Linked DNA regions of Homo sapiens: regions 2 and 3 are each linked to region 1. The links come from fine-mapping of genetic effects on gene expression. A gene starts in region 1. Each other region holds a variant in brackets. All regions are shown on one strand. Distances are from middle to middle.

Region 1 (10,667 bases):
TGGGAGCATTTTGGGTTGTCCCAATGTGGAGATCGCTAATCAGCATTTAGTGGGTAGGGGCGAAACAGACCTCCAAACTGCCAATAGCACCCACATAGAAACACTAAACTATGGGCTGATTCAAAAGGAAAACCTTTCATGGTAAAGTTAAACCACCTGTTAACACGCCTTAATTTACAACTTCCTATTCATTGATAGTCTGTTTAAAATATCTTAGAAGATCCATCGATCCCTTTCTATAAAACATCACTTACCTAGCATTTTATTTTCAAATACACACACATACTCACACAGACACACACACACACACCCCACATTTTAGATATACAGTTAATACTCTTTTATCCCCGATGTAACCAAAGCACTTCTCCTCCACTGCCTACCTGGCTCATTTTTTAACTCAATAAATGCATAGTAACCAAAGCACCTCTCCTCCACTGCCTACCTGGCTCATTTTTTTAACTCAATAAACGCATAGTACATTTGCACATGGTATAATCTTAGAAGTAGATGTCCTGCTGGATAAAAAATTTTGTTTCAGCATCAAGAATATAGTTTGAAATTTCTAGTTCCAAGAATCACTCATGTCAATAGGAAATTTTAGACTGCCTTGGTTCACTGCCTAAGCGTCCCAAGGGCACTATGCTAATGTTTATACTATGTCTGTCTTTAAAAATTGATGAAAAATGGAAATCTAACATGAATTAATTTATAAATGATATATAATTCCACACCCAAAGAGTGAAAAAGATGTAACCTGTAGACAGATTTAAATATGTACAAGAGCAAAATTTTAAGTAGGAGGTACTCAGTCAAAACTGTAGTACTCCTAAGCAGAACCAAGTTCAAAAGAAGACTTGCTGCTTAGGGACGGGTAAACTACATGGAGACCTTTGGCAAAGGTTTACTTTGGCATTCCAGTTGGCCAATGGTATTATCTCGTGAGTTGTGGAAATAATCACAAAATCAGATTTTTGAAGCCCTGAAGTTTCTTTTTAGGTTGAAAAAACTAATGTACATGAGGCTCCTAAGACTAATATACCAAAAAAATAAAAATGAGTATTTTGTGCCAAGTTTTAAAAGCTGAATTACACTATCTAGCTCTCAGCATTTAGTTAGATCCTGAGTACTGTTTCTTTAGATTTTATCTAGTCCCTACAAGGTATACCAAAAGAGAAAAAGATCCAGGACTTCTGAGACAGAACCCTGAGGCTCAGTCTTCAGCATAATTTGAGACTCACTTTTTGCCAAAGAACTGTGATTGACAACCTGAGCACTTTCAGTTCACCTTATTGTTCATTATTTCCTCCAGATGAACTGTAAATTGAACAGCTCTATCCAAGATTATAGATAAGACATAGCCCACCACTGCCAATTCCTTTGAAGCTGTTCTACTAGAAAAAGTTCATCAAAAGTGCTGACTCTTCAGGGAGAAGTTCCCCCCCCCCAAAAAAAAATGCTGAATCAAAGACTACTGTGCACTTCAAAAAACTCGCCCTTTTCTCTAGATGTGACTGTGGTTAGTACTGTGTAGGTAATCAGCAGGAATACATCAGCAGTCAGAAAACTGTGGCAGTTACTCCGGACTCAGCCAAATCACTTTACGTGTTTCTCTAGCTCCAGGTTCCCATCTATACAATGAATAGCATTTTCATCCACTGTCTTTCAAAGAACTGTGAGAACAAAATAAATATGAAAGTGATCCCTCCCTGTAACTATATTTCAATAAAAGATATTCTGAAATAGATGACCTTACAAAAGGATAAATTTGAAAAGCCAAAACAAATTTTTGCAAAAGAGCCTCTGCTATGTACTTCAGGACTGCCTCGAGGGTAGTTACGACTACCCTGTGAAGGGTACAAATAGAATCGAATCATTCTTTCCCTTCCCCAAGTCCTGAACCCTCTAAAAGTGAATACAGTTAAACATTCTGAAGTCCTCAGTGGAGAGAGAAGGTATCTTGTCTTCAAATCCTTCAGTGGATTACAACAATGTTCCCCTGAGCGGGTCTCCCCTCATTCACTTTTGCCACCCTCCACATTATCTCCCCCCCACCAAAAAAAAAAAAAAAAAGCCACAACCTGTCTCAATCCACTGCCTGTAATCTTCACTGGCTTCCCTCTGTTTTTAGAATAAAAGCTCTGCTTGGCGTGACCCCAGCTTTCTCCACCTGCCTCTCTCCCTCCCCGTTTCAGCCATGCTAGCCTTTCAAAAAGGCTGAAAAGCTTTCTTCCTCTTCACATTTCAGGGCCTTGACATACGCTGTTGCTTCAGCCTGAAATGTTCCTTTTTCGTTTTTCAGAGACAGGGTCTAGCTCTGTTTCCCAGGAGGGAGTGCAGTGGCATGATCACAGCTCACTGCAGCCTCGAACTACTGGGCTCAAATGATCCTCTCGCCTCAGCCTCCCGAGCAGCTAGGACTACAAGCACACACCACCACTCCCAGCTAGTTATTTTTTTATTTTTGGTAGAGACGGTGGTCTCACTATGTTGCCCAGGCTGGTCCTGAACTCCTGGCCTCAGGCAATCCTCCCACCTCAGCCTCCCAAAATGTTGGGATTATAGTCACGAGCCACCCTGCCAGGCCTGGAATGTTCTTTTCACTCACACCTTCACATTCCCTTTTCAGTCTCTTTTCAGATCTCAGGTCAAAAGTCATACCCTCTCAGAGCGAGAGGGTATGAAGAATATAAATAAAATTGTTTTAATCTTTAAAAAGTCATATTCTTAGCAATGCCTTTTTAAAATCTTCCATAATACACATGCCCCTACTACACTCTTTCATACCACTGTTATTCCTTCAAAGCACATTTCACGCTTGCTTGATTTTTAAAATCCATCCCCTCTGCTTGCCTGTAAGCTCTATAAAGACAATTTTCTAAACCCTACCATCAGCACTGTACCTGCATACAGCATGTATTCAGTACACATTATTTGCATGAATAAGTAAACGACTACCATTCAAAAGTCCTCGTTACCTGACTCCCAACTTTCTTTCCCACTTCTCCGCAGTGCAATCCACTGTAAAAGCTACTTCTGACTCCACCAGAAGCATTCCCTACCCCCATCTTCAGGCTTTCAAATCCTGTGGCTTTCCCTGCCTGTAAAATTATCCCCATTTCTCTCAACCTGTTCAAATCCTGAGGGCTTGCCAAGACTCAAGTTTTCTTTCCTCCAGAATATCTTCCCATAGTGCCAGTTTACACATGTGTCGTTGCTCCACACTTTCAAAGCACTTCGCATTCTCTTTTTGGTAAGTATACATAAACTGCATCGTATTTTAACGTGTCCTGTGTGTAGACTTTTCTCTCCAACGTTAGTGCTAACTCCTAAGGATAGACTGTTCACATCCCACCCGTTCCATTCCCAGAGCGGCGCTAAGTACTGGGCTCGCACTGAAGCATGTGATTTTTCCCTAACATACCAGAATTTTCCTCTGAAAAGAATACTAGCTTCCCCCTTACTCCTGTTTCTCAAGTGATTCAATATGCCTTATGTGACTCTCACCAAGTTCTTTTCTAGGGGTTTGTTTTGTTTTGTTCTGTTTTGTTTGCCTACCCTCCCCCATTCTACTAAAAAATAGTTGAGTTCTCTGGATTCCTGTTCTTTCTCATTCCTAGAGGGACCTTGTGTACTCTGTGAGGGTTCCTTGCCTGCAGTTAGGGGCTCCTAGGCCTTTAAACTGTCATCCCACCACCCCCGACCCCCGACACCCGCGCCCCCCCCAACACACACCCAGTGAAGGCACTTGCGCTAGCTGTGACCTCACACACACCACTCCATAGCCTCACCTGGACCTATCACTTCATTCCCCTCAATCAATCAGGCGGCGTGCATTCCTACCCAAGAAGAAAGATCCCAGACCGCTGTATCTCTCCTTTCTGCCTGTCATTAACTACCCACGAGAGCTCTTTCTCTTTTTCCCTCCTTCTCTTCCTTAGAGACGGAACCTAGGCCCAAGACGGTGAATTGGCGCCGAGAAACCAGACACAGCCACCCAGCCAGCTCCAGCTCCAACGCCACGGTCTCTGCCCCCGCACCCACCCGCGTCCCTCCCAGGCAGCGACCGGAGCTCATGCTTCGGCCTGACCAGGACTCCCCATCCGGGGAGAGCCATCGCTCACTGACCCAGGAAGGTGTCAAACGAGGAAGTAGCAGCAGTAACAGGTACCGAGGCAGACAGCCTAGCGGACGCTATCGGCTCAGCGATCCATCCCTTCCCGACCTAAGCTCCGGCCTCACGGCTTCCTCTACCCAAGCGAACACAGAACAAGTCACGTGCCAGCCCAGCAGTCAGCTGACCGCGGCGCGCGCTGCTCCGCCTACGCCCGCGCCACTGCGCAGCCGCAGCCGCTGCCACTGCCGGGCCTTGGGAGAGGGGCGGGACTAGGAGGCTACGGGGCGGCAAGGGGACCCTATATTCGGGGCTGATCGCTGTTGTTCCAGAGTGGGTGGGGTTTTCCGCTTCTTCCAGTGTTGCAAGTGGCGTTTTGTCCACCACTTGTAAACGTCAGCGCCACTGCAGGTTTCTGCGGGTCAGAAATTGTCTCCAACCCCCTACAAGGGCTTCTCCACTTGGGGTTTTCTTCGTCAGCTGGGTTTTCTACCTAGTATACTGGCTAGTAGTTCATTTTAGCAGATTCACATTTTCCTGAAGTCCACTTAGACTTAATTTCATAAATGGTCCATGGAGCATTTACTGTGCGCCAAGCACTGCGCTCGTTCTTAGGATTGCCTACTGGAGAGAATCACTCCTTGCCACGAAAGCGCCTCATAGATAGTTGAAACCACATTAGATAGTGGGAAACCAAAGGTTTTAGGACAGAGGCATAGACAGGGGAAAGCATCTCCTTTGGAGAAAAATAGGTAACAAGCTCCTCCCAGGAACCCTGCTTATTTCATTAGCTTGGGGAGATAGATAGTAATGTCCTAATTTAGAACACAGAGTTTTAGAAGTAGTAGAAATTTTGAGATGTTCTAATTTAATCCTTTTAGATCTACAGATGAAGAAAGTGAGGGCACGGAGTTGTTCAGCGCAAGGGAATAGATACCAGGTGTTGAATCCAGGCTCTCCTACTTACTAGTTGTGTGACCTTACTCCTCTGAATTTCAGCCTGTTCACATGCAAAGTGGTGGTAATAATACCTTACACAGGTATTGTGAGGATTAAATGAAGCCTGTGGTTAGCACAGTGCCTGGTACATAGGAAACAACCAGTAAATGGTCGTCATTATTACTATGTATTATAGGACCCAGGTTTTCTGACCTATACTATGCCTTTTCTGCTGTGTCCCCCTACAGAAATTCACCACAGAATTTCTCAGAGCCTCAGTATTAGGTTGGACAGAAAGTAACAACCACCAGACTATCCCCAACCTGACGCTTTCACCAGTTTTGGATGAAGTTCATGCAATTACAATAACCAGTTCTATAACATGGCTTCAGAAACTTATCAGAATTCCAGAGGCTTTTATCTGCCATCACGAAATGAGCCTAAAGGCATTTTTTTTTTGGTTAGGTCCACTAAAACTTTCTGCCATGATGCAAATGTTATCCTGTGCTGTCTGTACAGTACCCACTAGCTACATGGAGCCATTGAGCACTTGAAATATGGTTAGTGTGACTTAGTAACTGAATTTTAAAATTTATTTCACTTTAATTAAAATTTAAATAGCCACATGAGACCAGTGACAACAGCCTTAGACAGTGCAGTTTTAAGGTCCATGCTTGAACTATCTTGGTTTCTTCGTGCTTGTGTGTGGTCCTGAGGCAGACTTTTTGTCTTGGATTCTTAATTTCTAAACTGAATTATACCTCGCGCAACTTTCCAACATTTGGGGTTTTTTTTTTAGTTTTGGGGTTTTTTTTGAGATGGAGTCTCGCCCTGTCGCCCAGGTTGGAGAGCAGTGGTGCGATCTCAGCTCACTGCAAACTCCACCTCCCGGGTTCAAGCGATTCTTGTGCCTTGCCCTCCTAAGTAGCTGGGACTACAGGCGTGCACCATCACACCCAACTAATTTTTGTATTTTTAGTAGAGACGGGTTTTCCTCATGTTGGCCAAGCTGGTCTCCAAGTCCTGAGGTCAAGTGATCTGCCCACTTGGCCCTCCCAAAGTGCTGGGATTACAGGGGTGAGCCATCGTGCCTGGCCTCCAGTGTTTTAATTACCATGTTATACTTGGGAGGCAGTACAACAGAGTGTTCAATAAATGTTAGCTCTAATTTTTATGAGGTTTAATGTATCTCACTTAAAAATTTAGGAAACATAGCTGGGCATGGTGGTGCATGCCTATAGTCCCAGCTACTCGGGAGGCTGAGGTGGGAGGACCCCTTGAGCCCAGGAGTTCGAGGCTGCAGTGAGCTAAAATTGCACCATACACTCCAGCCTGGGCAACAGAGCAAGACCCCATCTCAAAAAATCAAATAAAAATCTAGCAAAGATGTTTAATATAAGCAGGGCATGATTGCTCTCCAGTGGTTTCTAATAGTAAAGTAATATGTTTTTACAGAGAAGCAACTCACTTTTTAAAAACTGTACTATGCATAGAAGCATACTAGGTAGCCATGGGCATGTCACACCTTTTCCTCCATTTCCACCTATCTAAAGACTACTCATCTCCAAACATCTAAGTTTAAAGCACTCCTAAGATGCATGGGAGAAGATTTATTTTTTTCTTACAACTTTTTCCGGGGAAAAAATTTATTTTTTCCTTTATTAAAATATTGAGCTTATTTCAGTTACATATTTTTGTCTTCCCACCATTTCCATTTGTCTGACCACAGCTACTACTATGTCCTATCATAATATTCCATACATACATATATACTGAAAACCAAGCAAAGAGCCAGGCGTGGTGGCTCACACCTGTAATCCCAGCACTTTGGGAGGCTGAGGTGGGCAGATCACTTGAGGCCAGGAGTTTGACACCTTCCTGACCAACATGGCAAAATGCCATCTCTACTAAAAATACAAAAATTAGCTGGGTGTGGTGGTGCATGCCTGTAATCCCAGCTGCTTGGGAGGCTGAGGCAGGAGAATTGCTTGAGCCTGGGAGCCAGAGGCTGCAGTGAGCCAAGATAGTGCCACTGCCCTCCAGCCTGAGTGACAGAGCAAGACTCTGTCTCAAAAAAAAAAACAAGCAAACGATGGAGTTTCATCTTTAAAAACTACAGGGGCATTTTGGACAACACATTTTTGGCAATGGAACCTGGACAATATTTATCCAACGTGCTAGGGAACTTCTCACTCTGAATTGTAAAAAGGACAGTTAGATATCAACTGTTACAGAAATGAAATGACAGATAATTTTTTTCTCTAAAAGAACTATTAACGAAATGACAGGTAATTTTTTTCTCTAAAAGAACTATTGGGTTAAAAGATTTAAAAAAAAAAAGAAGAAAGAAAATTTTAACAAGCTGTTTAAACTATTTTTTTTTTTTTTTGAGACAGAGTCTCACTCTGTTGCCCATGCTGGAATGCAATGGCGTGATCTCTGCTCACTGCAACCTCTGCCTCCCAGGTTCAAGCGATTCTCCTGTCTCAGCCTCCCAAGTAGCTGGGAATACAGGCATCCACCACCACGCCTGGCAAATTTTTTGTATTTTTATTTATTTATTTATTTATTTTTGGAGAGACAAGGTTTCACCATGTTGGCCAGGCTGGTTTTGAACTCCTGACCTCAAGTGATCTGCCCACCTTGGCCTCCCAAAGTGCTAGGGTTACAGGCATGAGCCACCACGCTTGGCCTAAACTGTGTTCTTAAAGAGACTTCTTCCACTGCCAGAGATGGTGAATAGCCTCCTAGTTGGTCATCCAGAAGTAATTCTTCACATAATTGATGCACTTAGCTTTGGGAAGAGAACCAACTTTTTCTATACTTGCTTGCATTTTTGCTTTTAATATATTCTACAAAACTAGGTCCTTTTGGTGTTTTAAGAGGTTTTTTCCCCCTGTTTTTGAAGGATTCTTGACCTTTTGGTCTTAATCTTGATAGTTCTGAGTCTTTTTTATTTTGGTTTGATCTTTGTGCATTTTTTGGATGGAGTATCCTGTATAAATTTCATCACTAGAGCTTTTTCTTCAGTTTTCCCTTCATCAAAATGTTCTTCCTCTTCATCATCATCATGATTTTCATCAGCAAGAAGTTTTATTTTTTTCTTGTAGAAATGTACCCACTTCCAGGGGCAGATCACTTTCCAGATATACTGAAAAGTCTCACATCTCCCTCCTCTTCATGTCCTGCTTTGTATCTTCCTTCATACCTGTTAAGTGCTGTGTACTCATATGCCCAGGCCCTGAAACACACTGAGTGTAAGGCCACAGGCAATGTTATTTCAAAGCCCCCAAGATAAACCATTGACTGTACATACCTTTTTAAAGTTGCTAGTATTACTTTAATTGGACTGCCTTCATAGTTCATTACTTCTGCTTCAACAATATAAAATCCATCCTTTCTACCAGCCCCTAAACTGACCATTCTTAAAGATAACTTGTGCTCATTTTCATCATTATCCACCTTAAAGTGATAATCTTTGTTGGCCTCTAGTCACAACCAAAAAGATAGTTCTGGGGCCTCAGGAGGCTGATGTCCATGTCCGTCAAATCTTCCATGGGTGGCGGCAAGCACTTAGGTAGGAGAGAAGCCAGGCAGAGGTAAACAACCACGCTCCAGAGAACAGCTGTGCAGGATGGAATCATACCAGCAACCAATTATTTTGTTTTTTGATTACTGTTTTCTTTTTTTAATTTTTTAAATATTTTTTAACTTTTATTTTAAGTTCAGGGGTACGTGCGCAGGTTTGTTACATAGGTAAACTTGTGTCAAGGAGGTTTGTTGTACAGATTATTTCATCACCCAGGTATTAAGCCTAGTATCCATTAGTTAAACAAAGTGGAGAAAGTATTTGAAGCAAATAGGGCAACAGGATTCAGAACTCTTTTTCACTCTGGTATAATAGTCAAGATATCTTGAAAGTTGTTACTGGCATTTCCCTTAGGAAACTAAGTGTCCTTGTTTAAGAAAATACCTTGATAAACTAATATCTTCCACTAGGGTGGAAGAAAAACTGAGAGTATGGTTAAATGGAGGCAAAGACCAAAGAAATAACTTGAGCTAGTTTCCACTGAAAAGCAACAGAAATTGGAGAATGAAGAGATGGGAGAGAGGCATAGGGAAGAGAAGGAAAGAAAGAGAAAAGAGAAAGACAAATGACAAGGGACTTATAAAAAGAGGAATATTTAGAACTCAATTTGAGCTTACTTCAGTTGCTGTGATTTAAATCCTTTGCCATCTTCCCAGAGCTTTAATAAAGTCTACGCTCAAATGCCTTTATGCAAAATTCTTTTGTAGACATATATGCTATCCAGGTTATAATATACAGAGAGCTTGAACAAATTGATAAAAGCAATACTAAGGGCTGAGCACGGTGGCTCATGCCTGTAATCCCAGCACTTTGGGAGGCCAAGGAAGACGGATCACTTGAGGCCGGGAGTTTAAGACCAGCCAGGCCAACATTGCAAAACCTTGTCTCTACTAAAAAATACAAAAATTATTAAGGTGTGGTGGTGTATGCCTGTCATCCCAGCTACTCAGGAGGCTGAGGGATGAGAATTGCTTGAACCTGGGAGGCAGAGGTTGCAATGAGCCAAGATAGCGACACTGCACTCCAGCCTGGGTGACAGAGCAAGACTCTGTCTCAAAAAAAAAGGAACAATACTAAGACCATCCAAAAGACAAATGAGCAAAAAGCACAAAACAGTTAAGAAAAAAAGAAGTGCTATTGGCTATAACATACGGGGAATATTCACTCTTACTAGTGCTCAAAAATATAAATAAGAACAATACAAAATTTTATAAACACAAATATTAAAATAAATAGAAATAACTCATATTAGCAAAGATAGAAATATACACATAATAGCCAATGCTGGTGAGGGTGTGGTAAGATAGACTCTTACACTACTAGTAGAAATGTAAATTGGTACAACTCTTTGGTCAGCAATTAACAGTATGAATGAGAGGCCTTTAAAATGTTTGTTCCATTTGACTGTCATTAGAATGTTAATCATGCAAAAGATAGAAAAGTATTTATGCAAAATATGTTTATTACATCATTATTTATGTTTGTTTTCATCATCAACACCATTTATTAAAGATTTCATTAAGAACTAAGCCCCTGTGAAGGTGAAGTGTTGAAAATGGTATTGAGGTTTATATCTTGAATTTTCGGAGTTCATTGCTCAAGGGTAATGAATAGAATATACTAGACCCATGATTCTCAACCTGAGGACATTTGGCAATGTCTGAGACATTTTTGGTTGTCACAGCCTAAGGGTAGGGATGCCACTAGTACCTGGTGGGTAAAGGCCAGGAATGATGCTAAACGTCTTAAAATGCACAGGACAGACCCCAAACAGAATTATCTGATCCAAAATGTCAACCGTGCTCATGCTGAGAAACCTGGTACTTGACTTATAACACTCTCAGATTCCCAAATTCATGACTTACTGCATAATGTATAATACCCTCAGTTTTTTAATCTGTAAGGTGAGACAATAATATCTACCTCTATTGTTATGAGAATAAAATTGAATCATATAATAAATTGTAGTCACATCGCCACTTTGAGATGTCAGCTAGGTTTGATGCAGGGCAGGCAAGCTCCAAA
Region 2 (10,667 bases), 39 kb after region 1:
GTAGAAATGGGGTTTCACCACATTGGCCAGGCTGATTTCAAACTCCTGACCTCTAGTGATCCACCTGCCTCAGCCTCCCAAATTGCTGGGATTACAGGCATGAGCTATGGCCCCTGGTCCCCAATCTACTTCTTTTTATTATTATTATTATTTTTTGTGTGTGTGTGTGTTTTTTTTTTAGACGGAGTCTCGCTCTGTTGCCCAGGCTGGAGTGCAGTGCCGCGACCTCAGCTCACTGCAAGCTCCGCCTCCCAGGTTCACGCTGTTCTCCTGCCTCAGCCTCCCGAGCAGCTGGGACCACAGGCGCCCGCCACCATGCCTGACTAATTTTTTTGTATTTTTAGTAGAGACGGGGTTTCACCATGTTAGCCAGGATGGTCTCGATCTCCTGACCTCGTGGTCCGCCCACCTCGGCCTTCCAAATTGCTGGGATTACAGGCGTGAGCCACCGCACCTGGCCTCAATCTACGTCTTACAACAATTAGCTTACAAAAGCCATAGGCTTCCATGGAAAGACTCCAATTTTCTAGAGGAAATGTCCACTGTTGCCTGCAGAAGAAACTTTCCTGTCACCTGAAAGAATGAAAATTATTCAAAGTTTCTCTTGATCCATGTCTAAAAGACAACTAAGAGGTTCCTTTGAATTTGCAGGATATTGTAGGTCTTAGGTCCCAAATCTTTCCTTGTTGGCATCTCGCTTGTATGAACTTGCACAAAACTCTGACCCAGAGCCTTTAGCGTGGGAGGATAATCATGAACAGGCTTCAGCCAACCAAAACTGGCCCTACCACAACCTCCAGCCTTAGGACTCTGAAATTATAGCAAACCTGTATCACTTTCACTTCATTCATTCATGAACATAACAACGAGGCTTTAGAAATTCTTACTTAAGAACACAGAGGAAAACATAGGCCCATCACTTAATAGGCTGCAATTAGACCCAGTAGCTAAGGTGGATCCCAATTGTTTAAAGGTAGTAGCAGAAGCATCCAGATTGGTTGAGGTCTCATCTGAGCTGATTTTAGGAAATGAATTTTATTCGCAAGCTCCACACGCTTTGGAAAGTCTATTAAATTCCAGTCAAACTCAACATTTCTCAGCAAGTAGACTAACATCTTTTGAAATTCTTCTCCTGTCTCCTTCTAATCTCATATAAAATGCTGCAATCTTGGCTGGGCATGGTGGCTCACACCTGTAATCCCAGCACTTTGGGAGCCTGAGGTGGACGGATCAGTTGAGGTCAGGAGTTTGAGACCAGCCTGGCCAACATGGTGAAACCCCATCTCTACTAAAAAAATACAAAAATTTAGCCAGACATGGTGGCAGGTGCCTGTAATCCCAGCTATTTGGGAGGCTGAGGCAGGAGAACTGCTTGAATCTGGGAGGCGGAGGTTGCAGTGACCCGAGATTGTGCCACTGCACTCCAGCTTGAGCGACAGAGGCTCCGTCTCAAAATAAAACAAAATAAATAAATAAATAAATAAATAAATAAATAAAATAATGCTGCAATCTACTTAACCCTTCTACCCTACTACCCTTACTTGACAAAGGTGAGGACCACAACTATGTAAATCTCATATCACAGCTATTGACTCCTCAACTGATTTATAAGATGCCCCATTAAACACCTTGAGATAATACATTTTGCTGATGGATTTTATGCTAAAAATGCGGAAGTAAAATACCAAGGAGGGCATGCCTGGACTACCCAGAATGAATTAACAGAAAAGGGAGCTCTTCCCCAGTTGAAGTCAGCCCAACCAGCAGAGGTACATGCTCTCACTCAGGCCTGTCAAATATCTCAGGGCAAATCAGACAACATTTATACAGACAGTAGATAAGCCTTTGGGGGTAGTCCATGATTTTGGCATGTATTAGAAGCAAAGAGGGGTCCTCATTTCAAGTGGGTCCACCACCGAAAATGAGCCCCAGGCAAATGAACTTCCTTCTGCTATTTTGCTGCCCTCACAAGTTGCTATTATTAAAATTGAAGCTCACTTGTAAAACTGAACCTAAATATCAAGACAATGCCTTAGTGGACTTCCATGCTAAGGTAGCTGTCACTAAACATGTTAGGATATATAATTTGGTTGAACTCTATAACATTAATTCAGATCAAATCACCTATGATAATTTGTTAAATAAACGATTCTATGCACCTGAATTAGAAAACCAAAATTGGCACTTAAAAGGATGCAAATTTAATACCAAATGTGAACTCACTGAGGGCCCTGACAGCCACCTAGTCCTCCCTAAGTCCTTAAAACTACCAGTATTAAAGGCTCTGCACTCCACAGCTCACCAGAGTGTAGACAAAATGGTTCAAATTATGAAAAAGTATTGGTGGAGTAATTGTTCTAAAGTTGCAAAAATGGTTCATAACCCAAGTCTGATTTATCAGATTCATAATTCTGTGAAAACCATTAAGGTTTCAAACGGTACATTTCTACCACCTGCTGGACCATGTGAACACCTACAAAAGAACTTCATTTAGTTGCTACCCTCAATGGGCTACCAGTATGTTCCTGTAACTGTATGCCTGTTCTCAGGGTGGATTGAGGCCTTGCCATGCAGGAAGGCTGATGCCACAACAGTAGCAAAAAAAAAACAACACAAAAAAATACAAAAAACAGAGCATATGTTTCCTTTATGGGATATCCCTAGAAAGATTTCCAGTGATAGAGGAACTCATTTTACTGGACAAATTTATTATTATTATTATTATTATTATTATTATTATTATTATTATTGTTATTGTTATTTTTGAGGCAGAGTCTTGCTCTGTTATCCAGGCTGGGGTGCAGTGGCATGGTCTCGGCTCACTGCAACCTTCGCCTCCTGTGTTCAAGTGATTCTCCTGCCTCAGGCTCCCAAGTAGCTGGGATTACAGGCATGTACCACCATCTGGCTAATTTTTGTACTTTTAGTAGAGACAAAGTTTCACCATGTTGGCCAGGCTGATCTCAAACTCTTGACCTCAGGTGATCCGCCTGCCTTAGCCTCCCAAAGTGCTGGAATTACAGGCATTAGCCACCACGCCTGGCCTACTGGACAAATTATTAAACAATTTTTTTAAAGGTTTACAAACAAAATAGCATGACCATTGTCCTTATCCCTAGTCTTCTGGAAAGGTTGAATAGGCAAATGGCAACCTAAAACTAAAATTGGCCAAAATGATGGAATCTTCTGGATTGCCTGGCCAAAAGTTTGAACACTGGGCTTAATGGCAATTATATCTACCCATGCTGGAAAGCACAAGATGACACCTCATGAAATAGTACTGAAAGACCTATGCCCGTAATAATACAGCTTCATGTACCTCCCATATTTGTAACCTGTGGTATGACTCAATATTGCCAGACCTTGATAAATTATGCTGAAGCATGCAATAAGTTCTCACAACATCATTGATCAGCTCTTGGAAAGTGTGATTTTAAGCAAAACAATGTATAATAAAACAAATTTAATTTTTCTCATCAACGTTAAAATGAAACAACATTGAATGAAATACATTATTCAAGGAACACTGTTTTGCTTAAAATCATTGTTTCCATAAAACTATCAACGACGACATCAATTGAGGACTTACTGTATTTCTATCTGGTAATAGTAGCTTTCTGTGACCCACTGACTGATTATCAGAATCCTCATGGTCTAGAACTTGGAAACTGGGTCTTTTGGAATTTATATCAAAGAAAGTCTGCCCTTGAGTCTCACTGGAAGGGACCACACCAACTTCTCACCACTTACACTACAGTAAAGCCTTGAGTTTTGGACCAATGTTTCTCAACTCAAGAGGGCCCTTCCAGACTCTCAGAACTGACCACCAGTTAAGGATCTCAAGGTAAAGTTGGCCAGGAACATCTCTCCCCAAAGCAGATGGCATCTTGAATGTAGACAGCCTTCCCAAGATCAGAGATCAAGAACCTCCTCTTCCTGGGGTGGGTGCAGTGGCTCACGCCTGTAATCCCAGCACTTTGGGAGGCCGAGGAGGGCAGATCACGAGGTCAGAAGATCAAGACCATCCTGGCTAACACAGTGAAACCCCGTCTCTACTAAAAATACAAAAAATTAGTCGGGCATGGTGGCGGGTGCCTGTAGTCCCAGCTACTCGGGAGGCTGAGGCAGGTGAGTGGCGTGAACCTGGGAGGTGGAGCTTGCAGTGAGCCGAGATAGTGCCACTGCAATCCAGCCTGGGTGACAGAGCAAGACTCCATCTCAAAAAAAAAAAAAAAAAAGTACCTCCTCTTCCTATCATGGAACCCCTGTTCTTTTCATCTCCTGTTTCTTACTCTTCCTTTCTGTGTATGGCACGATAATGCCATAATTAGAATCTCACAGTCTATAGCTTCTGCAGAAAATTTAGCTAAATTCTGGATTTTCCATGCTAAGTCAAAATACTTGCATGGCTTTTTAGAGACCCATTAGTATATCTTGTGACTCAATTTGCCAGAATCTCAAATGCAACAATCTGTTTAGATTATACTGTTGGTCCCTTTATAGAGTTAAACTTCTAGACCCCTTTATTCTTACTTCTTGTTTAACCCAACCATAGAATAGGATGGCCAGGTCTGCTGACCATATTGCAAGGAGGCTATGCACAAAAAAGGAGAACATTAACAGAGCTATTTACAAGAATGCCTATCTACATACGTATTTTGGTAGCCTTCTAGGACGTAATAACTCAGTATCAGTCTCTTGGTTAGAAACTGCTGATGCCAACTAATTACTCCATAACTGAAGTCTCCCAAGGAGGAGGCTTGTTCACCCTAGGTACATCCTTCCTACCACTGCCCTCCGCCACCCCACAACCAGGCTTTCAGGAATGTCCTAGGTACATCTTTATAAGCAGAGAATTTAACTGTCAGCCATATGCTTGGACCACCCCATACCTTGACAGATGGAGAATGAAAGACCAATGGGGACTAGGGATTTTAATGGTGCCATTGTCACTACATAACCAGTCAGAAGCTAAACATCAGTACACCCCTCTAAACCTGCATCATAGATTAAAAAGAAACTGACCAGCAGATGACAACCCTGCCAAGGGGGCATCATATGTTAGGTCCATTTTTCCATGGCTTGGGATGACTACAAATGAAATAAAGGTCAAAAATTTTTCTTTGACATTAGTTACTATTGCGGGTTCTACAGCTAAGGCTATAGCTATCCAACAAAAATCTCTAAATTCCCTTACTTGAGTAGTTTTAGATAATAGACTTGCATTGGACTATTGGCTGAACAAGGAAGAGTCTATGCAATATGCTCATTTTATCCTATTCCTCCTGTTGTGCCTGGATAAATACCTCTTGTATTAGAAACTCAATCACAAGAAATTAACAAACAGGCCACCTGGTTAAAACAAGTTGAATCCCCCTCTGGTTCATTCCTTGATTTATTCAATTTTAGCTGGTTTGATTCATGAGGACCTTGGCTAAGGAGCATACTCTAGTCTCTTGGTATTATCCTCCTGATGGTCATCATTGTAATCACCCTGTTTGCTGTATTCTGTCAAGAGTCTTAAATGCATGCTCTCAGCCATCAGTGGTACATTAGATGCTCTCACCTTGATCAGAGTGACAATAATGATGTGAACAACAAAGGGAATCTTTCTTCAATGAGCCTAACATCATGACTTGTGAGTTCCACAGAGACAAAGACAACTTACCTGTGATGGTGACAGGGAGGG[G/C]TGCCTATGCCTAAGTATTGTTCAGTCTCTCATAAGAGGCTGACCAAAAGCAGAGAATAATTGTTTTTAACAAAAATTCTAACAGGGAGGGCATTAGACTGTTAAAGCAAACTAAATATGGCCTGAGAAGGACTTCGTGCTTCTATATTTGAGTCCTTGTGGACAAACTGTAACTTAGCTTAATAGGCATACAAAATTGAAATCCTAATTTAGAAGCATGCACCTGTAACAATAGCTGCATTTTTGGCCAATCCCAGCAGCCATATTTCAGCCACTCATAGCCTGCTAAGTGTTGAAACCATGTTCAAATAAAGCAAATGCCAGCCTGTAACCAATCCAGCTGTTTCTGTACCTCACTGCTGATTTCTGTACATCACTTCCCTTTTTTTGTTTATAAATTTGTTCTAACCACAAGCCTTCTCTGGAGTCCCCGAATCTGCTGTGATTCTGGGGACTGCCCAATTCGTGAATCATTCATTGCTCAATTAAACTCCTTTAAATTTAATTCAGCTGAAGTTTTTCTTTTAACAAGACGGAGGCAACCCTACCACTTTAGGTTCCTATATGTAAGCAGACTGGAGCCCAGTGTAAAGAGTAAAACAAAACTAAAGACTACCAATAAGAAAACACCAGCTAACCTCTAACTAGGGTCTTTCCACCTAATCCAATGAAGTACACTTTCATCTTCCCTTTGTGTAAAAGCTCACTGCCCATGCTGCTGCAACAAAGCATTCTGAATTTCTTTTGATTCTGAGAACTACCAATTCATGAATTGTTCTTTGCTCAAAATAAACTATTAAATGTATATTATCTAAGGTTTTTAAACGTTAGTAATTTAAACATTAGAAATATTAAATTTCTACGTAAATAAACAACATAGAAAATAAATAGCAAGAGTAGACCGGGCACGGTGGCTCACGGCTGCAATCCCAGCAATTTGGGAGGCCAAGGCAGGTGGATCACCTGAGGTCAGGAGTTTGAGACCAGCCTGGCCAACATGGTGAAACCTCGTCTCCACTAAAAATACAAAAATTAGCTGGGCATGGTGGTGTACACCTGTAATTCCAGCTACTTGAGAGGCTGAGGCAGGAGAATTGCTTGAACCTGGAGGCAGAGTTTGCAGTGAGTCGAGATTGCGCCACTGCACTCCAGCCTGGGCTACAGAGTGAGAGTCCCTCTCAAAAAAAGAAAAAGAAAACAAATAGCAAGAGTAAATAAATTGTAAATGAAACAACAAGAGTCATTTGGATAGTGCTTACCTTCTTGTGTAACTTACGACATGGAGAGAGCATCTTTTCTCTGACGTGATGAATTGTTCTCCTTTCTAAGACTGGATCAGCTCCCAACATTTTATCCTTTGTGTTTTCAGCGTCATGAAAAATTTCCCAGAGTTGCTTCAATGTGAAGTTTCTGCCAGGACCGCTTCCTCTGAGACAGCATGCTTTTTGCCACACTTCCTTCCTCATTTATGTTAAGTTTGCCTTTGCTAAGTTCCTCTGGCTGCATATCCTCTTGAATGATGCAGTGGCCACATTCTCACAGTGAACTGTTTTTCTGTAACTCATTCAATTTGGAGTTCATTTCTAGCATTACTACTTTTTGGACTTTTTTCTGCGCTTTCATCTTTGTTGGCCAATTTCCTCTTTTGAGTATCCATTATTGTAAACCATCATGTGGCTTCATTCACAGGAAAATCAGCAACACAACTACACGCTTTGCTGTGTAGGAACTGAACATATGTGCAGTGGCCAATCATTAGTGGACTTTGAAAGGAGAGGTGTGATTGGTTATTGATCATGCTATGCATCTGTTATTTACATAGTGATTTGTGGACTAAAGAGCTGACAGTGAGGTTTGTACTTTGTGTAATTGTGCACAGTTAATAACGTTGTAGCTGAAATTTGAACCATGTTGTTGGGGTTCTGGTGTGATTTAACTAAATGGTGGTAACTAGGATTTGTGCATATTGGGACCATGCAAAGTGAGGACTAACTATACTTCCAACCCTTACCAAGACTGATCCAGCTGCTGCCATTATCAAATGTCTGATATATCTGCAACAGAGACCAACACTGAGCCCTTGATGTGACACCATTCCTCAATGAGACCAACTGGCCGCTTGATGGAAGCTGACTACCTTAGGTCTCTTCCACCCTGGAAGGGTCAGTGGTTTGATCCCACAGGACATATTCAGGTTATGAGTTTTCCTATATAAATGTAAATTGTCTAAACATCATTCTTTGTCACTGAATAGAATGCTTCAGAATATATATACTATAATATTATTTAGAAAAACATTTAAATAATGTAAAAACAATATTAAATATTGATACATATATAGAACTTTTGAAGTATTTTTTAATAGATTGATTAGATACACACTACACTCACTGCAAGGATTCAGGTGGTGGAAAATAAAGCAGTGAAGATCTCTTGCTTTGCAGAAATATTTCTTGGATTTCATATACTTTTAAGGCCATATTGGAAGCTGGCAAAGATCCCACTGAGTCCTGGTTGGTAAGTAAACACAGCCTGCTTTTTAGCTTCCAGCTCTTTGCAGAGAACCATGATCCTCCTTTTCCTTTCTCCAGGGCTAACCCACTTCTTCCTACGCTCAGATTTCTGATTCTGGAATACAAAACGTACACTGTGAAAGCCTGAGGGAAAGGAATGCCCTCCCACCCCTATCCCAGCCCTCCTATCCCCTCAGCCCCCACTCCTGTCACAATTAAGCACAATGGCAATGAGCACTAGGACCCCGCACTTGACCGTTTTAGGGACCCTCTGTCTGCAAGTGGGTGAAGAACCACTGAATCTTTCTTGTTTTTTAAATTTTTTTTTTTTTTTAGAGGCTGGTGTCTTGCAATGTCGTTCAGGCTGGAGTGGCACACTCACAGCTCACTGCAGCCTCGAATTCCTGGGTTCAGGCGATCCTCTTGCAGCAGCCTCCTAAGTAGCTGGGACTACAGGCGTGTGCCACAGTGCCTGGCTGAATCTTGTTGAGAGGAGCTTAGTCAGAACTGGAGGTCTACTGAAAACCACCCTAGTGAGTGAGGCATGGGCATACTAATCGTGCTCCACTATTGCCCAACATCCCAGCATCGGGGTTGCTGCTGGTACTCCTTCTACCCTGTTCGGTATGGGCTGTACGCTGAGCTCAGGGAGGGGCAAGAAGGTACAAGGACTTCATGTTTTCCAGTCTGGGCAAGGAAAGGGCAGACTGTCTTACTGCCTTCTTTGGAAAGAGAGGGTTTGGCCCTCCCTTTTTGCATAAACTGCTTAGACACGCAGCACTGTAAGAATACCCAGACTTTATTGCAAACTCTCTAAGATTTGGTTCAATCTGATTTATCATTTCCAAATTCCACTTAATAGAGTGTATTTCTTGCTGATTTTATTTTATTTATTTTTTACCCTGTCCTAACCAGAATGCTTTTGAGTTTCCCCTTGTGTTTTTTTTTTCCTCTCTCTCATAGGTTGAAATTATCAAGGAGTTTGAGATCTTCCTACCTGTAAGAGTTTGCAACCCAGCCAACGAAGGGAGTAAAAAAAATTATGTCAAAATATTTTACATACTGAATTTCAAAAAGCAATTATTTGAGATTTTTGAGACACTAATGTATTCTTTATACCAACTTCAACCAAAGGGATGGCAGAAAGCAGAAAAGACTGTTTCATTATTGAGAATAAAGATCAATTCTATTTTACAAAACTGGGATCTTTCAGATAAGTAAGACAAGGTTTGCAAAGCACCTGGTAGTTTGCCTGGCATATAGAAGGTGCTTAATAACTCAGTTGTCATTATGTTTTATATGTGCCATATTAACTCTACAGTGCAGTTTAGGAAGACTCTCACTCTCTCTAAACCAGCCTTTCTCACAGGTTAATGTGAAATTAAATTACCTGGAGTTTTGTTAAATTGCAGATTCTGATTCAGTGGGTCTGGGCTGAGGCCTGAAAGATGCTTTTTTTTTTTTTTTTTTTTGAGACAGGGTCTCATTCTGTTGCCCAGGCTGGAGTGCAGTGGCACAATCATAGCTCACTGAAGCCTCAACCTCCCAGGCTCAATTGATCCTGCCGCCTCAGCTTCCCAAGCAGCTGGGACTACAGGTATGTGCCACCAGACCTGGCTAAGTTTTTGTATTTTTTGTAAAGACAGGGTCTCATTATGTTGCCCAGGCGGGTCTTGAACTCCTGGGCTCAAGCAATCCTTCTGCCTCAGCCTCCCAAAGTGCTGGGATTACAGGAGTGAGCCACAGCACTCAGAAAGATGCATTTCTTTCTTTTTTCTTTTCTTTTTTTTTTTTTTTAACTTTTAAGCTCACAGGTACATGTGCAGATTTGTTACATAAGTAAACTTGTGTCATGAGGGTTTGTTGTACAGATTATTTCATCACCCAAGCATTAAGCCTAGTACCTATTCACTATTTTTTCTGATCCTCTCCTTCCTCTCACCCTATGTGCAGTTCTAACAAGCTCCCAGGTGTTGCTGATACTGCTGGAATGAGATCCACACTCGGAGTTATCAGGGTTCTACCTCATAGGTTGAAATGACTATTCCTACTCATTTCTAACCCTACAGTTGTATGCTGTTTGTTTCATCTCGTGTGCCTTGCTTTGACCCCCAACCATCCATTCAGATCCCACATAACATCCACGATACAGTTTATGCTCCACTCTCTTGATTAAACCTTTCTGCCAAATTATTATCTTAATAGATTAGTATTATCTCTAAAACGCTGAATCAAATTTAATTGGATTCCTCTTATCAGGATTGGTAAGAGGTTGGTTAGTTAACCTGAAAAGTTGGTTAAGGCAGGCAAATCATAATTTAAACATACCTACTTTAAACGTTTAACAGCGTTTAAATGTGCATTTGTTGGCCAGTTTTTTGACATGGGGCCTAGTCCTTTTGTTTGAGTAGACCTCCCTTGAGAAATATTCTGCCTCTTCTTTCTTACGCAAGCCATCCCTATAT
Region 3 (10,361 bases), 47 kb before region 1:
GGCGGGAGGATCCCTTGAGCTCAGGAGTTCGAGACCAGCCCGGGCAACATAGTGAGACCTCATCTGTGCTAAAATTTAAAAAATTGGCCAGGCGTGGTAGCACGCACCTGTAGGCCCAGCTACTTGGGGGCTGAGGTGGGAGGATTGCTTGAGCCCAGGAAATCGAGGGTGAGGCTGCAGTAAGCCCTGATCATGCCACTGCACTCTAGCCTGGGTGACAGAGCAAGACCTTGTCTCAAAAACAAAACAAAACAAAACAAAACAAAAATAGCAACACAAGTTAACATCTGATTCTCCATACCGAATATCTTTCCTATACCATTGTCCATCTCGGACTCAGGTTAAGCAATGTGTCTGGCTCATTCACACAACAGTTGAGTGTGGGGCGGGAAGTGTGACAACCAGCAGTCAAAAATCTTAGGTTCAAATTCTGACTGGCTCAAGATTTGTGACTCAACAAAGAATTCACTTAACTTCTTTCACCTGAAGTCTCCATACATGAAAATGGGGACCGCCAGTACTCCCTCCATGAACAACACGGGGAGGGGCCGGGAGGATGATGTGGATGTGAATGATCCCTGACAGACACTCAGTAAATGTTTAATGAGTCTGTTATCTAAGCACTATCCTCAAGGAGAACCAGCAGACTCCTCGGGAAGGTAAGTGGCTTGGGACAGTCCCTTTCCAGGAATGGTGACCGCCACCAACAATATCAATAATCCAGCACAGACTGGAGCTCAGTGACACAAACTGCTCTGTTGTTATGTTAGACACAATGACTTCCTTCTAACCCTCAGACTCTACAATGATGTGGATCTGGATTTTCCCAAATTAAACACAGTGAAAAGGAACTACCTGTGTTCCCCAAGGGCTAAGTACCTGCATCAACCTCTCACCATGCACCACTCGCAGCACTTTCTGTGCACGTGGGGTCACACTGACTCACCCCAACATCCCTAATGCGGTGGGCACTCTAATCATGCCCATTTTACAGAGGAGGGACTGGAACTCGGAGACCACTCTGCCCAGGACCACACAGCTCGTCAGCAGCAGAGCTGGGGCCTGGCCTCAGAGCACATGCTCAGCCACTCTGCTATAATTTCTCTGGTGGAAATCACAGTGAAAGTCCCGTCGTTTCAGACATATGCTGGGATTCTAAACCTTATGCAGTCTGTACCTACTCTCATGAGAACAACAGTAAAGTCTAAATAAAACCTTAAAAGTCACTGTGTGGCTGAGCTTCAGGTTAGTGACATGTTTTTCTTAAAAGTCAATTTAATGTCAAAACATGCCCCCCCATGATAGAGAGAGTAGCGCCACGTTACAGATACTAAGACTCAAAGAACATGTGCAAAAGACAAAGAACCAAAATTTTCTGATAGCAAAATCTTTCACAGCTTCCTCTTGTCCAAAGAAAAACTGAAGATAAATCCACACTCCAAACATGTCTTTAGTTTAGAATTCTGACAGATGACTTGGCAGTGAGTGTCAAAAACTTAAGTGTACATAACCTATGACCCTACAAATTCCACTTCTCAGATCTTACAGAAATACTAATACAAGTATACAAAGAAATCTGTGCAAGGATGCTGACTGCAGCAGTGTTTGTTAAGAGCAAAAACTAAAAACAAGCAGACTATCCATCCACTCGGCTAAACACATGATGACAGACACTCAATGGAACGCCACGCAGCCAGTTAAAAGAATGAGGTAGCTCCAGCTTCACTGACACAAAGGATTCTCTTAGATATACTCTTAAGCAAAAAAGCAAGTGACAGGATGTGTGTGGTATAATCCTATTTTATTAAAAATAAACTGTGTGTGTGTATACGTGTGTGTGTGTGAGACAGAGATGTAAAGACATAGAAAAGGGCCTAGAAAAATACATAAACTTCCCTTGGGAGGTGGAAATTGAGGGAGGGGGTCTCTCATGTTCTACATTGTGGATGTCTGTATTTGCTTGAAATTATTTATGAAATAATATAATATTTTGAAACAAAAGATTTTGGAGGCTAATTTTCTAAAGGGAATAGCATAGCTTAGATATGCCCCTAAACTGAAATGTAAACTTTTTTCCCATTTGCAAACCTGTGAGTACGTAGTAAGAGAAACATTGCCACAAAATCCTCTTTTAAAAGCTCTTTCAGGACACTAAATTAAGTCATTCATTTCTGAGATTTTAAAGGCCAACAATGTCTCTATTTTCAGACTATGTCACAAATGACATAAATGCCAAAATTATAGATCTTAAGAAGACAACACATAAAATACAGACTTAGACAAAACAAATGACTAAAGCTGCATAGTTCTGCTAGACTTTATTCAAAACTGGCTCTATTCTTAATTATTTGAGAGACCTAAAATTCTAGTGTTCAAATGTAAATACCCATCATATACTGAAAAGTCATCTTCAAATTTGTGTTCTGACCCAAATTTGGCTCAATTAAATCATACGAAAGTCAGACAACACAAATGGTTACACCTCAGCATATAACAAAATCCTGGAAGCAGCATAGCAAGTGAGCTATGACATCATTTAACTCTCAAACAGAACTGTAATCTTAAGTTACACACACCACAATACACCTTTGCACAGGTAATTTTATTCTCTCCTGTGGGTGTTGACAGTGCTCATTGATTGAAATTTGAAACGTTCAGAAATCCCATACCTGAAGATGGTCACATATTCTTTACATCATGATTCAGTAACTATTCAACAGTTATGTCTACTAAATACAGTGAACAAAACAGTATAAATGTTTACACCATTCCCCTGTGAACAGGGCTTTTGTGCACAATAGTAACAAATGGAATTAATGCATACCATGATATCAATAAGGAAGAGACCTTCTCTTTAAATAAACTATTTTGTTTATAAATAAACTCTGATTTTTTTAGTACACATTTACAGACCTGATCAATAAAAAGAAACTATATATATATATTTTTTCCTTTAAAAAGAAAATGTTGAGATACAGACCACTGTGGGAGAATTCACCTAGGAAAGGGCGTAAGAAGCAAGCAAAGGATACTAGAGTTAAAAGTACGACCATACTGCAACTTATTTCTGTTAGCACACACAAACACAAGGACAGGATTGTCGGGGGAGGAGCCCATTTTCACTTGAATTCCAGCAAGTTGCAATCAATCTTGTAGTACACATAGGGGTAGTATTCTTGTTGACTCAGGTTTAAACCTGGAATATCCATAGGAGCCTATGGAAAAAACAGACAATTATTCAATTTTGTATTTACAGAACTCAAAAAAAGAAAGCAAGTATTAACATTTACCTTTTTATTGAACATCTACTCTGGGCTAAATGTATGCACTTAAGGCTAATTTATCTGAGTTAGACATTATTCCCATTTTGCAAATGAGAAAACAATCTCTGAAAGACTGACTTCTCCTAGGAAACACAGACAGTGAGTGGTAAAGCCAGGTTCAAGCATTCTGACTGCATATGTATTTAGCATGATCCCACCAACCTTTTTTATGTATACTGTAAAAATTAACTTTTTAAATCTTGGACTTAGAATACTGAGTTGATGGGATACAAGACTTACAAAATATGGAGTAAAAATAAAGCAAGTATGATTTATAAGTAATACTTATTCTGTAATATCAGCACTTTGAGAGGCCAAGGCCTTGAGCCCAGGAGTTCAAGACCAGTCTGGGCAACATAGTGAGACTCTATCGCTACAAAAAATAAAAATAAAAACATTAACCAGCAGTGGTACTGCGTGCCTATAGTCCCAACTACTTGGAAGGCTGAGGTGGGAGGATCACTTGAGCATAGAGGTTGAGGCTGCAGTGAGCCAAAACCATGCCACTGCATTCTAGCCTGAGCAACAGAGCCAAAAAACAAGCAAGGATAACACTTATTATAAATGCATGTTATAAGAATTTACTGCTAGAACATTTATGTATCAAATAATTATACCTCTCATTTTATCCACAATTGCATGAAAGTGGAGCAAGTTGGCCGGGGGCAAGGTGGCTCACGCCTGTAATCTTAGCACTTTGGGAGGCCGAGGTGGGCGGATCACCTGAGGTCAGGAGTTCAAGACCAGCCTGGCCAACATGGTGAAACCGCAGCTCTACTAAAAATACAAAAATTAGCCAGGCATAATCCCAGCTACTCAGGAGGCTGAGGCAGGAGAACTGCCTGAACCCAGGAGGCAGAGACTGCAGTGAGCCAAGATCACGCCACTTCACTCCAGCCTGGGCAAAAGAGCGAAACTCCATCTCGAAAAAAAAAAAAAAAAAAAGAAAAAGAAAAAAAGTGTAGCAAGTCATTTCCCGCATTTCCTTCTATCAAGAAAAACTGATTTTTCATAGTTCTAATTAATGCCTATGTGAGATGCTACCATCTACCCTAAACTTTTAAAGAGAAAAAAAAAAATCAGCAAGATATTTAAAACCAGAAATATAAAGTAAAAGCCCACTACAATTTTTTTTTTTTTTTTTTTTGGGACGGAGTCTCCCTCTGTCACCCAGGCTGGAGTGCAGTGGCGCAATCTTGGCTCACTGCAACCACCCCCCGAGGTTCAAGCGATTCTCCTGCCTCAGGCTCCCGAGTAGCTGGGATTATAGGTGACCGCTGCCACGCCCAGCTAATTATTGTATTTCTAGTAGAGACGGGGTTTCACCATGTTGGCCAGGCCGGTCTCAAACTCCTGACTTAAGGTGATCCCCCCGCCTCGGCCTCCCAAAGTGCTGGGATTACAGGCGTGAGCCACCACGCCCAGCGGCCCACTACAATTTTAAACAGCAACAACAAAAAAACACAAGTAACTCTGTTTATATCTTCTTTTGTTTAAAAAATAACAGTTTTGTTTAAAAGAAGATATAAACACATAATACATTTTTTGGTCTGTTTTTTTTTTTCTTTTTTCAGATGGGATCTTACTATGTTACCCAGGTTGGTCTCGAAGGCCTGGGCTCAAGTGATCCTCCCGCCTCAGCCTCCTCAGTTGCTGGGACTACCAACATGTCCCACCACGCCCAGCTACGCCATTTTAGAAAAATGAACCTACCTTGAAAATACTCATCTATTGACTCTATCGCTTCTACCAAATAAAATTAAAATAACTGCTTATTTTCTTCCTCTCTGCAATTTATAGTTTTTGTAAATAACTAGTATCACTGGTTTCTGTATTTCTGCAGCTATAAACATCTGATACACAGCAAGATAATTACTAGCTTGTAGAAATGCCAAGAAGCAAAACACAGATATAATTAGTATAAAACAGGGTAAACAATGTAAATTACTATGTTTACATAACAAATTGAGAACCTCAAAGTAATAAAAAATGATTAAGTTTCATACTTACCCTCCCTTTTCTGTCTATCTTCTTTCAATCATTTTTTTTCTGAAATTCACTTCAATTCTTACTCTACTGGGCTAATAAGTACTTACATCAATAATAGCTGCTGCACTGCTGTCTAGATGTTTATACAATTCATGTAATACTTCTCTCAGTTTCTTCAAAGTTTTCTTATTGGGCTGAAGTAGCATTGCTTGGAAGTTCACTGGCAAGCCATACCTTACAAAAAAGCAGAAATACAGTACGCAATACAAGCAAACATGTAAAGAGATTTTCTTTTCAAAGCAAATATTCTCATACTCTTTAATCATGGTTAACGGGGAGAGAATATCTCCCTTTACCTTTACAAGTTCAACTAATATATATAGAAACTGAAACTAATATACACAAAAAACTTCAATATAAACAGAAACGCAAACCTTTGGTCCCCACTGTCCACTAGAAATCTCTACGCCAATTACTAGGAATTACTTCAATTACCATTCATTTTTTTTTTCTTTTGAGACGGATTCTTACTGTTGCCAGGCTGGAGTGCAGTGGTGCAATCCTGGCTCACTGCAATCTCCGCCTCCTGGGTTCAAGCCATTCTCCTGCCTCAGCCTCCTGAGTAGCTGGGATTACAGGCACATACCACCATGCCCAGCTGATTTTTCTATTTTTAGTAGAGACGGGGTTTCACCATGTTGGCCAGCATGGTCTCAATCTCTTGACCTCATGATCTGCCCGCCTTGGCCTCCCAAAGTGCTGGGACTACAGGCATGAGCCACCACGCCTGGCTTACCATTCAATTTTTAAGGTAATATATGAATATCCTCAGGAAATAAGAAGAAGTAAGGTCAGCAGATACTTTTATGGTAATAGCATGAGGTTACCCACATATAGTTTGAAAATTTGAAAAAATTTAAAAATAGTGAGCATGGTTACATGTAAGTTTTGGGGTGTTTTTTTGTTTGTTTTGTGTTTTGTTTTTTCAGGCGGAGTCTCGCTCTGTTGCCCAGGCTGGAGTGCAGTGGTGCAATAGTGCAGTGGCACAATCTCGGCTCACTGCAACCTCCACCTCCTGGGTTCAAGTGATTCTCTGCCTCAGTCTCCCAAGTAGCCAGCACTACAGGCGCGTGCCACCACACTTGGCTAATTTTTTTATATTTTTAGTAGAGACAGGATTTCACCCTGTTAGCCAGGATGGTCTCAATCGGACCTCGTGATCTGCCTGCCTCAGCCTCCCAAAGTGCTGGGATTACAGGCGTGAGCCACTGCA[C/T]CCGGCCAAGTTTTGGGTTTTTTAAAACTATTTCTAATATGAGCAACCCATACATTGGACCAGAATATGATTTTTTAAATATCTCAAAATATTAAAATACTTTAGGTTAATATGAAATGATTTCAATAAGTCATTAGCATACTATGTATCCAATGACATATAAAACACCTGAAGGATCTTCCTTTTAAACAAATATTGGTTAATATTTAATCTACTTTTAAGTACCTACACAAGAAAAAGAACCTGAGGGTATGGCAGCATAAATCTCTTTTTCTAAACCTGGTGCTAAAGAACAAGACTAATATGCATTTTATAAGCTGTATGATGATACTGATAATCTCTGTCTCATGATTGGCCCTTTGATTTCTCCAAATCAATTTCCTATTGCTGGACTGTGTTATAATAAAGAGGTCCAATGTAAGGAATCTATGAACTCTTCAGTTCCAAGTTTGGCAATTAACTTGCTTTACCTTAAAACAGACTCAACGAAAACCCGTAATGCTTTCACGTGAATCCATGCAATAAATGCTTCACTAAAATTCACTTTCAGCCACCGTACAAGTGGTCCCTATAAAAAGAAAAAAAATTACCACAAATTTGGTCTTAGAAATAGCAATTAGATAGACCAAATATTTTTTTAAGTGACTACCTATTAGGAATCTATAGAAGAATTAAGTCGCATAATTCACTTTCTACATGTTTCACTATTATTCTCATTATCTCAGATACCTTATCTTAAATTAGATTAAAAGGTTCGCCACTACAGAGAGATCTCAACAGACACTAAAATGCATTGAACCAATTCACTAACACAGAAAAAGGTATATATTTTAATAAAAGTAGTTAAAATGGTACAAAATATAGAAATGCCTTAGGTTGGAAAATCAAAATATAAAGATCTGAATTTACTACACAACACTCTAAAACATTTAATACATGTAAAATGAAATTCAACTTACAAACAACTTCTTAGTAACAAAGATAAACAGTTATGTAGGCAAGTCATTTAACAGCACTAGCTCTTAGTTTTCCCATCTGTAAAAAAGGGAGTTGGTCTAGACATCTAAAACCTCTTTACATTCTAAATTGTATAGCGTTAAGTTCTTTTTAAACTTCAAATATTTAGTAGGATTAAGCGGATTTCAAATACCTCCTCTCTCCATACTTAAAAGATTCAGCTAACACTTCCTTGGATAACATTATTAGGCTCATTTGGATGTACCAAACAATTAATTTAAGCAAAAGGATAGCAAAACAAGTGAAAATCTTGTCAAAATATCTATTTTTTAAAAGGATTTTGGGTTTGCCCTAAAAAGCTGGTTATTTTGACATTACTTGGTTAGAATGAGTTTCCTCCTAGTTGAGATGATATGGCTTATAAAGTACTTGGAAATAATTTTCAATATTTCCCTTAATTTCCTCTTACATTATTAAGAGAAACACATTTTCACTCATTATGTTTCCCTTTCCAAACAAGCTTTTAGTCTTCACAGTAATCCCACACTTGAAGATGGCAAGAAAGTTAACACCATCTTTGATTTTCACAATTCCACTCGTTTCCCATTACACCTAGAACACACCAATTCTCCAATAGCTTAAATACAAATTGCTTCAATAAAAGATTGAGGCATTGAAAAAATCTGCCTCAAGAAAGTGAAAAGTCTTACTGAAAAGAACTTCGTTACTTAACTAAAATCACCCTTCACCTACAAGGATGTTAACCAGAATACTGCATTTAAAATTAATGTCTGATATGGATTTAGGTGGAGTAATTTCTTTTTAAGTATGTATTTTAGGATAACTATTCTATCTACTCTATTCTATCTCAGATAGACATAAGCTTTAGAAGAAAGCTTTCTTAGAAATAGAATAGTTATCTCTAGAACAGTTAAGCTTTAGAGGAAATTCATTCTGATTATTCAATTAAAAAAAAAAACTAAAATCAAATGTCTTAAAACCAAAGCAGATTTTTACTTTCTTTTAAATCAAAGGAAAGCAATACCACTTTTTCTTCTGCTTAGTACTGATAATACTAAATATTAAAAACACATACAAATTGTTTTTTCTTATCAGTAGAAAGCCTGTTCATTTCTTCTTTATCTGCTTTCATCTCCTCTTCATTATACTGGAAGTCACGAACAATGAATCTAAATTTGGGGGAAAAAAAACAAAATTGTTCACATTGTATACAGCTGATCTAACAAAGTAAATAAACAAAAAAACAATAATCTTACTTGTTTTCTCTGGCTTTGTGTCTGAAGTCATCAACTGCCTTCCTAAACAAGGTGACATTACACAGGTAACTGTCTTGGTCCTCTGAAAGAACACTATGGAAAAAAAAAAAGTCCATTTAAAGATTTATACGTATTGCTGTCTTTCATATTAAGGGCAAAATTCAGAAACAGGTGGAAGAGAAAAGTAGGGTATAATAGCCCTTCCCAAATCACCTCAATGCTTTTCAATCTGGATTGCCTCAAACACCGAAGATACTGAATGTTTATGATTTATTTTGCTTATGATACCTTAACACTCTACATTTATTTCTTACTAACCAACAAAATTAGACATTAACTCCAGTAAAGCATCCAAACGCTAAGAACCACACTTTTCAATCAACATCAGCGCCAAGCTGCTTTGTTTCCAGTGTCTCCTTGATAAGCACACTCTTCTTTTCTGGAAGCCTAATTCTTTCTTCCTTTCTCCAGGCCAACTCAGCCCCACTGATGCCCAGCCTAGCCTCTCTGCATTGCCAGTACCTTAAACCTTGGATCTTTCCTTTGCTCCCATGACATCTCTCAATCAAAAACTGACAGGCTGGGTGCAGTGGCTTATGTCTGTAATCCCAACACTTTGGCAGGCTGAGGTGGGTGATTGCTTGAGTTCAGGACTTTGAGACCAGCCTGGGCAACATGGCAAGACTGTGTCTGTACAAAAAATACAAAAACTAGCCAGGCGTGATGGTGCATGCCTGTAGTCCTAGCTACTCGGGAGGCTGAGGTGGGAGGATCACTGGAGCTGGGGAGGTTGAGGCTACAGTGAGCTGAGATTGCACCACTGCACTCCAGCCTGGGTGACAGAGTGAGTCCCTGTCAAAAAAAAAAAAAAAAAAAAAAAAAAAAACCCTGATGAACACAACTGTCTAAATAATCTCTGAATAAAAGTGCCTGTATGCATCTCATGGCTCCATTTTAGGCTTTAGAAGGTCCCAGTGAGGTCAGAACTTCCATTCAGTCACAGCTCCATGGACATCACTAGAAAGACCTTTCCAGACACAACTGCCAGGTAATTTTAATGGTCATTTAAATCTGTAATACCTTGGGTGAAAGTCCACTGTTTGAAAGGTGAATGGTATCGCTTGTGATAGTATGGTCCAAATTTGGCTTTCAGAATTTACCTATAGTGCCTCCTGTATAGAAGTCCTTATGTGAGGTCCACAAGGCTGCACAGGCAGCTGTTCCACAGCGATAACCTTGGGGCAGGGGAATGTTACTGAGGGGAATCTCTTCTCCTTTCTGTCTTTCACATACTGGAGTTCTTCTAATGTTTAGTGTTTTTTAAACAGCTTTACTGAGATATAATCGTTATACAGAAAACTGTACGCATTTAATGTCTATAATCTGAAGTGTGGACATACGCATATACCCATGAAACCATCACCACAATCTAGACAATAAACATACCCCTCACTACCAAAAGGGTCCTTGTGCCCTTTTGTTGGTTGTTTTCTTTGTTTTTTAATGTTCAGTTTTACAATGTGGTACTTCTGAAATCAGAAA

What was found.
Region 2: its variant is fine-mapped to the expression of ATP6V1C1 in whole blood (TOPMed, PIP 0.98).
Region 3: its variant is fine-mapped to the expression of ATP6V1C1 in whole blood (INTERVAL, PIP above 0.99).

Annotation. Positions count from the first base shown.
Region 1 is chr8:103,014,687-103,025,353 of GRCh38, reverse strand. It overlaps ATP6V1C1 (ATPase H+ transporting V1 subunit C1), which reads right to left and starts at 4,271. Exons shown (of 13, transcript NM_001695.5): 1 at 4,129-4,271. It also overlaps the pseudogene NPM1P52. RefSeq lists an enhancer at 3,832-4,041.
Region 2 is chr8:102,975,237-102,985,903 of GRCh38, reverse strand. MAILR (macrophage interferon regulatory lncRNA) reads right to left here. Exons shown (of 3, transcript NR_126339.1): 3 at 8,028-8,317. Among named protein-coding and RNA genes, the nearest start is that of ATP6V1C1, 41 kb to the left of the region's middle. RefSeq lists an enhancer at 6,051-6,200. The variant G/C (reference allele first, on the strand shown) is at 5,690.
Region 3 is chr8:103,061,506-103,071,866 of GRCh38, reverse strand. It overlaps ATP6V1C1 (ATPase H+ transporting V1 subunit C1), which reads right to left. Exons shown (of 13, transcript NM_001695.5): 9 at 8,820-8,912; 10 at 8,639-8,732; 11 at 7,056-7,153; 12 at 5,420-5,546; 13 at 1-3,215. The coding sequence ends at 3,120. Among named protein-coding and RNA genes, the nearest start is that of ATP6V1C1, 46 kb to the right of the region's middle. The variant C/T (reference allele first, on the strand shown) is at 6,586.